Linked DNA regions of Homo sapiens: region 2 is linked to region 1. Evidence: fine-mapped expression QTL. A gene starts in region 1. The other region holds a variant in brackets. All regions are shown on one strand. Distances are between the middles of the regions.

Evidence for each region. PIP is the estimated chance that this variant, and not a neighbour inherited with it, causes the effect.
Region 2: its variant is the best candidate, but not a certain one, in a credible set for the expression of FBN1-DT in aorta (GTEx, PIP 0.73).

What each region holds. Positions count from the first base shown.
Region 1 is chr15:48,643,299-48,648,670 of GRCh38, forward strand. FBN1-DT (FBN1 divergent transcript) reads left to right here and starts at 2,507. Exons shown (of 2, transcript NR_183872.1): 1 at 2,507-3,532. FBN1 (fibrillin 1) reads right to left here and starts at 2,411. Exons shown (of 66, transcript NM_000138.5): 1 at 2,277-2,411; 2 at 1,308-1,652. The coding sequence starts at 1,471. RefSeq lists silencers at 1,386-1,435, 1,536-1,665, 2,076-2,255, 2,296-2,375 and enhancers at 2,449-2,973, 2,486-2,575.
Region 2 is chr15:47,831,479-47,836,850 of GRCh38, forward strand. All of the region lies in intron 2 of LINC01491 (long intergenic non-protein coding RNA 1491), which reads right to left. Among named protein-coding and RNA genes, the nearest start is that of LINC01491, 12 kb to the right of the region's middle. The variant A/G (reference allele first, on the strand shown) is at 2,554.

The sequences.
Region 1 (5,372 bases):
ACTTCCTTCCAACATTATCGGAATTCTGGGTTTATTTTCCACGAAGGCCAAGATGGAACCGAATTAATCATAACTATTTTCTGTGCTATTTTATCACAGCCTAAGTGCTTGGCTCATACAATCATCTTGTCCTTACTCCAGACTAGGAGTCAAAAACTGGTCTGGTGAGTTTACTTTTTCTTCTCATATCTGGGCCATACAAACACAAATTTTACTACATATACATGACTATAACACCTCATAACAAAAAAAGAGTAAGTGAAATGAACAGCCACATATCCAAGTGGATACCATCACTTGGTGACCCAGAGCTATATAATAAAGCTACAGAACCACTCAGGAAAAGAGCATCAGCGAGAATGGTAAGAATTTAATACAAAATCTCCCTATATATACTGTCTGAATTTATTTAACAGGCTCCTCCAAGAAGATAAAAGGGGTCACTGACAGTCCATCCTGTTGTTTCCATGGAGGCTTTAACTTAAACAACTGCAGACAAATTTCTCTTAAAGGAAATGTATTCCCACTGTCCTTCAATACAGGAAAATGACAACCCTTAGTCAAGTCTAATTAAAATTTTTCCGGCTGAAACATCTGTAACAGCGGCATGGGAAGCCAGTGAAATGGTCAGTTGCATGTACACAACACAAACACCACTAGTTAAAAATACTCCCTTAAGGCCGGCCACAGCAGCCTTACTGCTGCAGTGAAACGGAGAGCCCCACACAACTCAAAAAACCAGTTCTCAGAACCACTTGCCCTGTTCTGCTTCCAATGTAGACATCTAAAGGAAGCATTGCCCAGAAAACCCAATCCGTAATTTTAATAAGCATAATTTACGGAAGAGTCAACTACTGTGTGATTTCTCCTCTGACTGTCATGGGAATCCCTTCCTTTCCTTGCCCCCTTTCAAATACAGCATCTACCAAGATGACCCCAAGGAAAGTACTTTCCTCTAGAAACAACCAGAATTGATATTGCAGGGAAAGGAACGGGCTTCTCCTCTTATCCCACTCGCAACTCCTCCCCTTCTTCCCCAAGGAACTCTTCTCGCCTCCCAAAATCTGCCTCAACAATGGCCCAAGATTCCATTTAACCACGTCCTCTCCTTTGGGGCAGAAATCTCTGGGAGTAGGGGCAAGGTAGTTTAACCACGAACGGGGTGGGGACTAAACAACCCTAGCACCTCTAAGGTGCCCCCAGGAGGTCTTGCCAAGGAGTCTTCCACAGGGAGAGTCATCCTGCCCGTTGTTCTGGATCTTGAAACTTGGGAGACCCACACCAAAGGAGGGAACCGGTTCCTTTACCCTTTAAGCGCGTCGTGTCCTCCACCGCCTCTTCTCTTGGCCCGACTGGCTCTGGTTTCCTTCACGTTCCCAGCCTCCAAATTGGCGTCCGCCCCATGGCTCGTGTAGGACGCTAAAAGCACGGTAAATCCCAGGGCGATCTCCAGCAGACGCCCTCGACGCATGATGCCGAGCCGCCACCGGCTCCCGCCGCCTCTTGCCGCGCCCGGGGCTCGGTCTGCGGCCGCCGCTGCGCCCTGAAGCGCACCGCGCCGCCGGGGTCCCGCTATCCCGCCGCCCGTCCCCCGGGCCGGGCTCCTCCCGCCTTCTCCAGGCGCTGCTCCCACTTCAGGCGGCCCCTGCCAGCTGCAACACAGAGACAAATCCCCGAGGCGGGGAGACTTTCAGGGCATCGGGATGCTGAAGCCTCGCGGTCCCCATTCCCAAGCCCAACCCGTGCGCCGCCTGCGCGTGGCGCAGTTAATTTGGGTAAGGGAAGACCGTTTGGTCCACAGCTGGCTGGAAAGCCCAGGCCCCCGGCGGCAGCAGCCCCGGCCGATCCCTCGGCCTCCCGGGCCCCGCCAGAAGAGCGCGGCGCAAAGTACCCATATCCCCAGCGGTCCTAAGCCCCGGGCGAGCTCTCTGGGTTTATTTTTTTTAGCGGCACGAATTGCGCGCGATGCGCGCTCTGAACGCCCCACTCCTCAGCCTGCCCTCTCCGCCAGGCTGGAAGCCAGCCGCGCCGTCCCCGCCGACTCCGGGCGATGCCACCGCCCCCCGAACATCTGACGCGGAGCCCGGCACCAAGAGCCCCGGGCCAGGAAGCTGTCAGGCAGGGGAGGGCCAGCGCCAGCTGTGGACGTTCCGGGACAGCCCCTCACCCCAGTCCCTGTCCCTGCCCTCGGCGCGGCGCAAACGCAAAAGCCTCCGTGGCCGCAGCTCCAGCCCCGGTGGCCGCCCGACCCCCGTCGGGACCCCGGCTGCACCCACTGGAGAAGCGGCGGCTCCGACTCCCGAGGAGGCGGCGGCGGCTGCTCCCAGTCGTGGCCGCTACAGCCACTGCTCGGCTCCGCTCGCAGCTGTCCCAGCTGTGGCTCCTGTCCGCTTGTGGCACCCACAGTCTCTGCCGCGGCTCCCGCAGCCCCCTCCTTTCCCCACCTCTTCAAGTATCGTCCGCGCAGCGGTTTCTCGCGAGAGAAATACTTTTTTTAAAAAAAGAAAGAAAAAGAAAATGACACCCCCTCCTTCGTCGCCCTCATCACCACCCCACCCCCCGGCCCCATCCATCCTCCCTTTCCACTCCCCTTTGCCAGCCTCCGCCTCGGTGCGGGGCCTCTCGCTCGCAGGATTAGCGCAGTGGGAGGAGGCAGAGGTGATCAGGTCCTGCCCGGCCTGGGACTTTTTGTCTTGAGGTGGGGAGGGGAGAAATGGGAAGAGGTGGAGTAGCGGTTTTAGCCCGCTCTGCGGCTGCGAGGTTTAGATCCGAGATTAACCTCTCCCGCGATAGGTGAAGCCCTACCGGAGCAGAAAGCTGTTCCACCTGCACCAAGAATGCGCGCTGGAGACGGTTGCCCCGGAGGCCCTGGCCCGAGAGAAAACCAGTCCCCGCTGCCCGCGCCTCCCGGTAGCGCGCTCCCTGCGCCTCTCCCGCCGGACACTCAGCAGACGCCGGAGGCCGGGAGGCTAAGACTGGGCGCGTCGCAGGCCGGGACCGCGGCAGAGGCTGCTGTGCCGACCGAGGAGAGGGCTCTGCCGCCCCCACTTGCCCTGGGTGTCGAGAGCCCACTCCAGACGCGGCTCTTCTGAGGCTCAATTCAAGCCACCCAGGCCTGAATCCAGGGTGCTCTCTCTAAGTCGGTGTCCAACCCAGGGGCCTGTAAATGTTGGAACCTAGGATGTAGGATGGGAGCGGTGAAGGGATGGTCCTCTTGCCCAGCCCAGATTAAGACTGGGGTTCATCTGGAGGACTCTACTTACACCCTCCCGGTCCCCTCGCCCTCCCCCACACACAGCTGCCTCTCCCCAGGATATGCGCGGCACAGTGAATTTAGTGGCTTTGAAAGGTATAGTATTTGTGGCATCCTTATATGGATAATGCCCAATGATGCCTGCACCCTGTAACAGTTTAGGAAGGCCTGAAGTCGCACACTGGGTCCTGGCTGCTGTAACTGGAGACCCCCAGAAGATCCCCTGCAAGCAGCCACCAGCCTGCTGTCAAGCCAATAATAAAAGCTCAGCACAAACAGGTACCCTGGGAATGTATCTTGTTGAAAGGGATTTTCCTTATTTGTAACCGTTTGTAAAGGGGCCCAGACAGTAGGGTAGAGAGACCTGGGCAAGTTATTCAACTTCTTTCCAAATACAAGATGGGACTTGTAGTGTCCACCACACAGGGTTGTAATGGTGATGATGGACATGCTGAACTGCTGTGATACATGAAGATGAAACAGAAAAACTGTGGGAACTATGAGCTGATCTAAAGCCATAGTCCTGTAAGTATGTATGTGGTGTACTTTAAGGTCTCACCTGCAAAAGGTCTCTTAGCAGATTCATGAATGAGAGCCTTGGTCACACACTCCTGGCTGAGTAAAGGAGATCATTCATTCAAGATGTTTTTACTGAGCACGAACTGTGTACTACTTAGTGCATTGTTGAACTAGACTTCAACAATTTTAACAAGGCAGGTTCAACAATTTGAACACGACTGACTTCAACAATTTAGTGAAAAGGGCAGAAATGTGTCTCCCCTCACACAGCAGGTAGTCAACAAGGAAAGGCAGACTTGAAACAAATAATGGACCAATTGTTAAGCGCCAAACAGGATAAGTACTGGGTGCTTGCTTGGAGGATATATAACAAGGGGACTTGACCTAGGCTAGGGCTGATCAGGAAAGGGATCCCTGAGGAAGTGATATTTAACTTAAGTCTAAAACATAACTAGACTCTACTTAGGATAGCAGTTCTCAACCCTGGCTATGCAGTAAAATAATAAGAGGCTTTAAAAAAATTCTGACACCAGGATGGGCATGGTGGCTCATGCCTGGGCCTGTAATCCCAGCACTTTGGGAGACCAAGGCGGGTGGATCACTTTAGACCAGTAGTTCAATAGCAGCCCGACCAACATTGTGAAACCCTGTCTCTACTAAAAATACAAAAATTAGCCAGGTGTGGTGGTGCATGCCTGTAAATCTTGCTACTCAGGAGGCTGAGGCACTAGAATCGCTTGAACCTGAGAGGTAGAGATTGCAGTGAGAGGAGATTGTGCCACTGCACTACAGCCTGGGCAGAACAGAGTGAAACTCTGCCTCAAAAAAAAAAAAAAAAAAAAAAAATCTGACACTGACACCAGGCCCCAACACCCAGAGTTTCTGATTTGAGTAGTCTGTAGTGGATTCTTCACATGGATATTTTTTAAAGCTCCCTGGGTAGGGAGGGGTAAGGAGGTAATTCACACTGGGAAAAGGATCTGAGCAGAGGGACCATGGATTAGGAGAAAGCAGGGCTGTTGGACATCCAGAAAGGCCTTGTCCTGCCCACCAGTTTTCTGGGCTGCTCTGCACCCACAGGGGACTCTGGAAACTGCATGCTTTCCTTGTACTCCAGCAGCATGCAAGACATGCTGTGCCCTTTCTCTCAGAATCTTACACTCAGTGACATGTTGGTCAGCAGCAACCAAACACAAGCCTTTTCTAAGGCTTCTGCCCAGGAAGTAAAGGCCAAATCCTGGTGCCCTGCAAGTCCCCTCTTCCAACATTTCTGGACATTTCTATTATTTCTAACTCAAACTGCCTTCCAGGGTTTCACCTCCAAGGGAGGGATTTGGATTAAACGTTTTTACCTGGCCTTTGCTTTCCCCGGCAACCTCCTCTTTATTCATTGGCCTCTTTCTCCAATAAAGGAAAGATTCTTCCTTCATATTGGGTGGCAGCTCCAAGCCATATACTCCCCTCTTTGAGCAATAAGTCTCATGTTCTGACCACAATGGTGGAAGATTACAGGGGAAGGGGAAGCAGGGGGAACTTGATTACTTAAAAGTAAATACATTTTAAATATACAAGAACTATTCCCGCTATCTAGGCAATCAAC
Region 2 (5,372 bases), 810 kb before region 1:
TTAGTAAATGGTGCTGAGAGAACTGTCTAACAATGTGCAGAAAATTGAAACTGGACCGATTCCTTATACCTTATACAAACATTAACTCAAGATGGATTAAAGACTTAAATGTAAAACTCAGAACTATAAAAACCTTAGAAGAAAATCTAGGCAGTACCATTCAGGACATAGGCACAGGCAAAGATTCCATGAAAACAACATCAAAAACAATGGCAACAAAAGCAAAAATTGACAAATGGGGTCTAATTAAACTAAACAGCTTCTGCAGAGCAAAAGAAACTATTATCAGAACAAACAGACAACCTACAGAATGGGAGAAAATTTTTGCAACTTATCCATCTGACAAAGGTCTAATATTTAGAGTTTACAAAGAACTTAAACAAATTTACAAGAAAAAAAACAACCCCATTAAAAAGGGTCAAAGGACATCAGCAGACACTTCTCCAAGGAAGACACTTGTACAGCCAACAAACATGTGAAAGAAGCTCAACATCACTGATCATTAGAGAAACACAAATCGAAACCACAGTGAGATACCATGTCACACCAGTCAGAATGGTGATTATTAAAAAGTCAAGAAATCACAAATGCTGGCGAGGCTGTGGAGAGATAGAAATGCCTTTACACTATTGGTGGGAATGTAAATTTGTTCAACCATTGTGGAAGACAGTCTGGTGATTCCTCAAAGACCTAGGAGCAGAAATACCATTTGACCCAGCAATCACATTACTAGGCATATGCCCAAAGGAATATAAATCATTCTATTATAAAGATTCATGAGCATGTATGTTCATTGCAGCACTCTTCACAATAGCAAAGACATGGAATCCACCCAAATGCCCATTAATGGTAGACTGGATAAAGAAAATGTGGTGCATACACACCATGGGATATTATGCAGCCATAAAAAGAAACAATTATCATGTCCTTTTCAGGGACATGGATGGAGCTGGAAGCTATTATCCTCAGGAAACTAATACAGGAAAGGAAACCAAATACTTCATGTTCTCACTCATAAGTGGGGCCTGAACAATGAGAACACATGGACATAAGGAGAGGAACAACACATACTGGGGCCTGTTGGGAAGGGGCGGGGAAAGGGAGAACATCAGGAAAAATAGCTAATGCATGCTGGGCTTAATACTTAGCTGATGGTTTGACAGGTGCAAGAAACCACCATGGCAAATGTTTACCCATGTAACAAACCTGCACATCCTGCACACATACCCCAGAACTTAAAAAAAAATAAAAAACCTTGGCTGGGAAATAGAAAAAAAAAAAAAAACAAAGAATCGTGGGTAAAAGCTAAATGAGGAATGGGATTTTACATTGTGTCAAAGTACAACCCATATTATATTTATTAATAACAAAGAAAGAATAATTTTACAGTGAAGAAATCTGGCAGGCACCATTTCAACCAAGTGATCAATGTTAACACCGTCAGTAACATGACAGACATTGTGTGCCACTTGAGAGAATGCATTGCAAAGAACACAGCATTCGTGGTATTCCCTCCATAAAATATATCATTGATGTCTAATCATGAGGAAACTTTGGAAAACTTAAATTGAAGAACATTCAAAAAATGACTAGTCTACAATCTTCAAAAATATCAGGGTCATGGAGGTCAGGGAAGACTAAGGAGGAAGAGCATATGGGAGGTTTTTGTACTCTTCTTGCAACTTCTCTGTAATTTGGAACTGTCAAAATAAAATATTAAACAAATCTATTAGCACAGAACAATAGGTTCACAGCAGGCACTAGAGGAGGGAGGGTCCAGTGGAGCTGAGGAGGACCCTGTGCCAGAAGAGAGACCTTAAGGCATCATCAGCATTTCTCACAGTGTCACCCAACAAAATCAACCCTCTTGTGAACTTCCAGTGTTCCATTGCAATAAGTGGGTGATGGGCACTAATGGTGGTGCTGGCTGGGTAAAGATGCTTTCCAATTTCTGCAAATTCCCCATTTGGAAGAGTCAGATAAAAGAAGAGAATTCAGTGAGTACAGGCCAGGGAAGCAAGAGGAGAAGGGCACAGCAGGCGAACGAACCAGGGTCCAAGAGAAGCTTCAACCCAAGCCGCTAAGCAGACAGCAGCCCTGATGAGAAAAGCAGGAGCACAGAGGACACGTCAGATGGTAGTGAAAGAGCTTGCAGCTGGGGATCCCTGCAAAGGAAAAGAAGTACAAGGTAGGGGCTGAGAAGCCACCACCAGATAGCCAGGGTGCAAAACTGGGGGAAAGGAGGCCAGATCAGAGAACCAAAGTGAAAATATGTAAAAACGAAAGACAGAAAGTAAAAATATATCAAGTTGATGAGAAGCAAAAGGTCAGCAGGGCCTCACAGAGATAGGTGGATTATTTATTGGTGTTAGAAAGTGAGATTACAGAAAATTGAAATAAATTCTGTGCCTGAGAGTTTATGGGAAAGGCTGGCAGATGGGAGACAGAAATATAAATTCCAGGAAGGAAAAAAAGGCACAGCTAGGAAAAGCAAGGGAGTGTACACGTTGATAATATAAAGATTATACTACCTGGAATGTGATAAAGCATCAA[A/G]TTTGGAGAAACCATAGTCTAGTGTTCAAAATTGGCAGGGAAAAAGTAGCGACATTTCTCTTTAAAATTGCACCCTAAAGACAAGAAGCTGTTCTTACTCTGTAAAGAGGTGAACATGCTGTGCTCAAAACATCATTCTGGAATCAGAGGAAGTAAGAAGAAAGAGGGAAAGCCTCATGTGACATTCTTAGTCAGGAACCTCGGTCTTCTGATCCAGCTGGTGGGAAGACACACAGAATTTACCTCCACAGCCTGAGGGCATTCATCTTAGCATCCTTAGTACCTGATACAAGAGCCAGTCACACAGCAGTTGCTCAATAAGTTTTTTCACTATCTGAAGGGTGAAAGTTTTCCCCAAAGGATAAAGGCAAACAATGAAAAAAGGGAAGAGTCTCTATTATTAGGTGAGATCTCTGGGAGAGTACCAGGAATAAATAATTATGGAGTAAAAAGTTACATTAAGGCTACCTTTTAGGATTTCATTTTAAAACATTTTGAAACAAACTTGCAAAGATTTTAGTCAGCAATTTACCACCATAAATTGTTTCTGTAAAACTCCTAGCAGATGCCAATGAATGTACCTAGAACAACTCCTACACATTCTTCTGTGAAATTCATTTCCCTGGTCTCTTTCCCCCTCCCGGTCCTAGCTTAGGTTGGAAGTCATATTACCAGGATATCCAGATGTAGCAGCACTAGTGGTCGCCCACCCGCAACTGCTCAGTCTACCCCCAAAGACTCCTGCAGACAGTTGTCCTTCACGCTGACTGCCCACTGTAGCCCCTGCCTAAGCAAGAGTCTGGCTGGAGAACAAGTCCAGCCAGAGTGCTCAGGCAGCAGAATGCTTGAGAGGTAGTGTCCCTGGAAGGAACTTCCAACCAGCAAGAACCGAAGATGATGGCTTAATAGCCTAGTGTCCACACCCTCCGCTGGGGGCAATTCTGAGATGTACTTCTCACAAACTCAGAGGGTCCTGAGCATGGTTGAGCTGTGGATGCCACTGTCGTTACCAAATTCTGTACTGATCTTCTTCCTGCCTCACTGCTCCACTGCTTCACAGTGCTCCCTGGGACCAGGCTCCCAAATTAACGACCTGCATTCAAACCCTTATATCATAATCTGCTTTGGGGGAGAACCAAACTAAGACATCAAGGATGGGAATGTGACCTAAACAAGGGCAATCACAGTCCTGCCTTGAATGTTTTCAGATTAGAGCTAAGGGAATAAAGCCTCTTCTTGTTGGAGAATCTGGGAAAATGAGAATAGTTGCTGGTGATAATCAGGGTTCCGGTTTGGCAGAGAAAGCTGGTGTATTAGTTCATTTTCACACTGCTATAAGGAACTACCTGAGACTGGGTAATTTACAAAGGAAAGAGGTTTAATTGACTCAGAGTTCCATATGGCTAGGGAGGCCCCAGGAAGCTTACAATCATGGCAGAAGGGGAAGCAGGCATGTCTTACATGGCAGCAAGCAAGAGAAAGAGAACATGTAAAGGAGGAACTGTCAAACACATAAAACCATCAGATCTCGTGAGAACTCACTATCACAAGAACAGCATGAGGGAAACCACCCCCATAATCCAATTACCTCCCATCAGGTCCCTCCCTCGACACATGGGAATTATGGGGATTACAATTCGAGATGAGGTTTGGGTGGGGACACAGATCCAAACCTTATCAGCTGGTATGGGTGAATGAATCCATATGCCCATGCAGGTGTATTACATTGTACATTCTCAGCAAGGTCAGTAGGATGTGAGGGGTTACTTCCCCTATTTCTCTAAGTTTCACTAGAGACCCCAAGGCTCAATTTTAATAAAACAGATGTCAGAGACCCTCCTCCAACCCCATTTTATTGAGCTCCTCAGCTCAGGAGATTTAAAAAACGCTTTGCCAAATATAAGTTGTATAGGGAAGAAGGCAAATAATGCATTGAGGGTTCCAAAAGTTGTAGTGCCTCAATGTGCCACCACTACACACTCATTAGAGCAACTCAAGTTAAAGTGCTGGTGAGGATGTGCAGCATCTCGGACTCCTAAACACTGCTGGAAGGGATGTGAAACAGCACGACCACTTTGGAAAACAGTTCAGCAATTTCTTAAGATGTTAACTATATAGGCATCATACAACCCAACCATTCCATCTCTAGGTATTGATCCAGAAGAAATGAAAGCATATGTTCACACAAAGACTTGTATGTGAATTCTGATAGCAGCTTTTTATGTAATAACCCCAACCTGGAAGCAACCTAAATGTAAGTATGGTACACCCATACAATGGAATACTACTCAGCAGTAGAAAGGGACAAACTTTTCAAACACACAATAACCTGGATGAATCTCAAAATAATTATTCTAAATGAAAGAAGAGAAGCCAACCCTCCCACCCCCTCAAAACAGAAAACCAAACCAGACTGATTCCATTTACACAAAAATCTAGGAAACATAAAGTGAGGAAGCAGATCAGTGGTTGCCTGAGGACAGGGGTCAGGGAGGCATGGAGCACAGAGTGGCATGAGAAGACCTTTGGGGTAATGGATATGTCATTATCATGATTGTAGTTTTAGTCATGCGTGTTTGTGTATGATAAATCCATCAAATTATACATCTTAAGTATGTGCAGTTGTTTCATACATCAATTATGCTTCAATGAAGCTATAAAAGTGCTGGTGCATATATTTTGAGAGACAGTTTATGTGCCATATATTCCCTCATAACCTCCCCTCTGAGGACAGAGGTGCATCCCCCTCTTTTTCAGCGAAGTGAGAAGGACTTGAAAGGACCCACTCAGAAAGTTTGATATATGTCCTCTGGAATTTG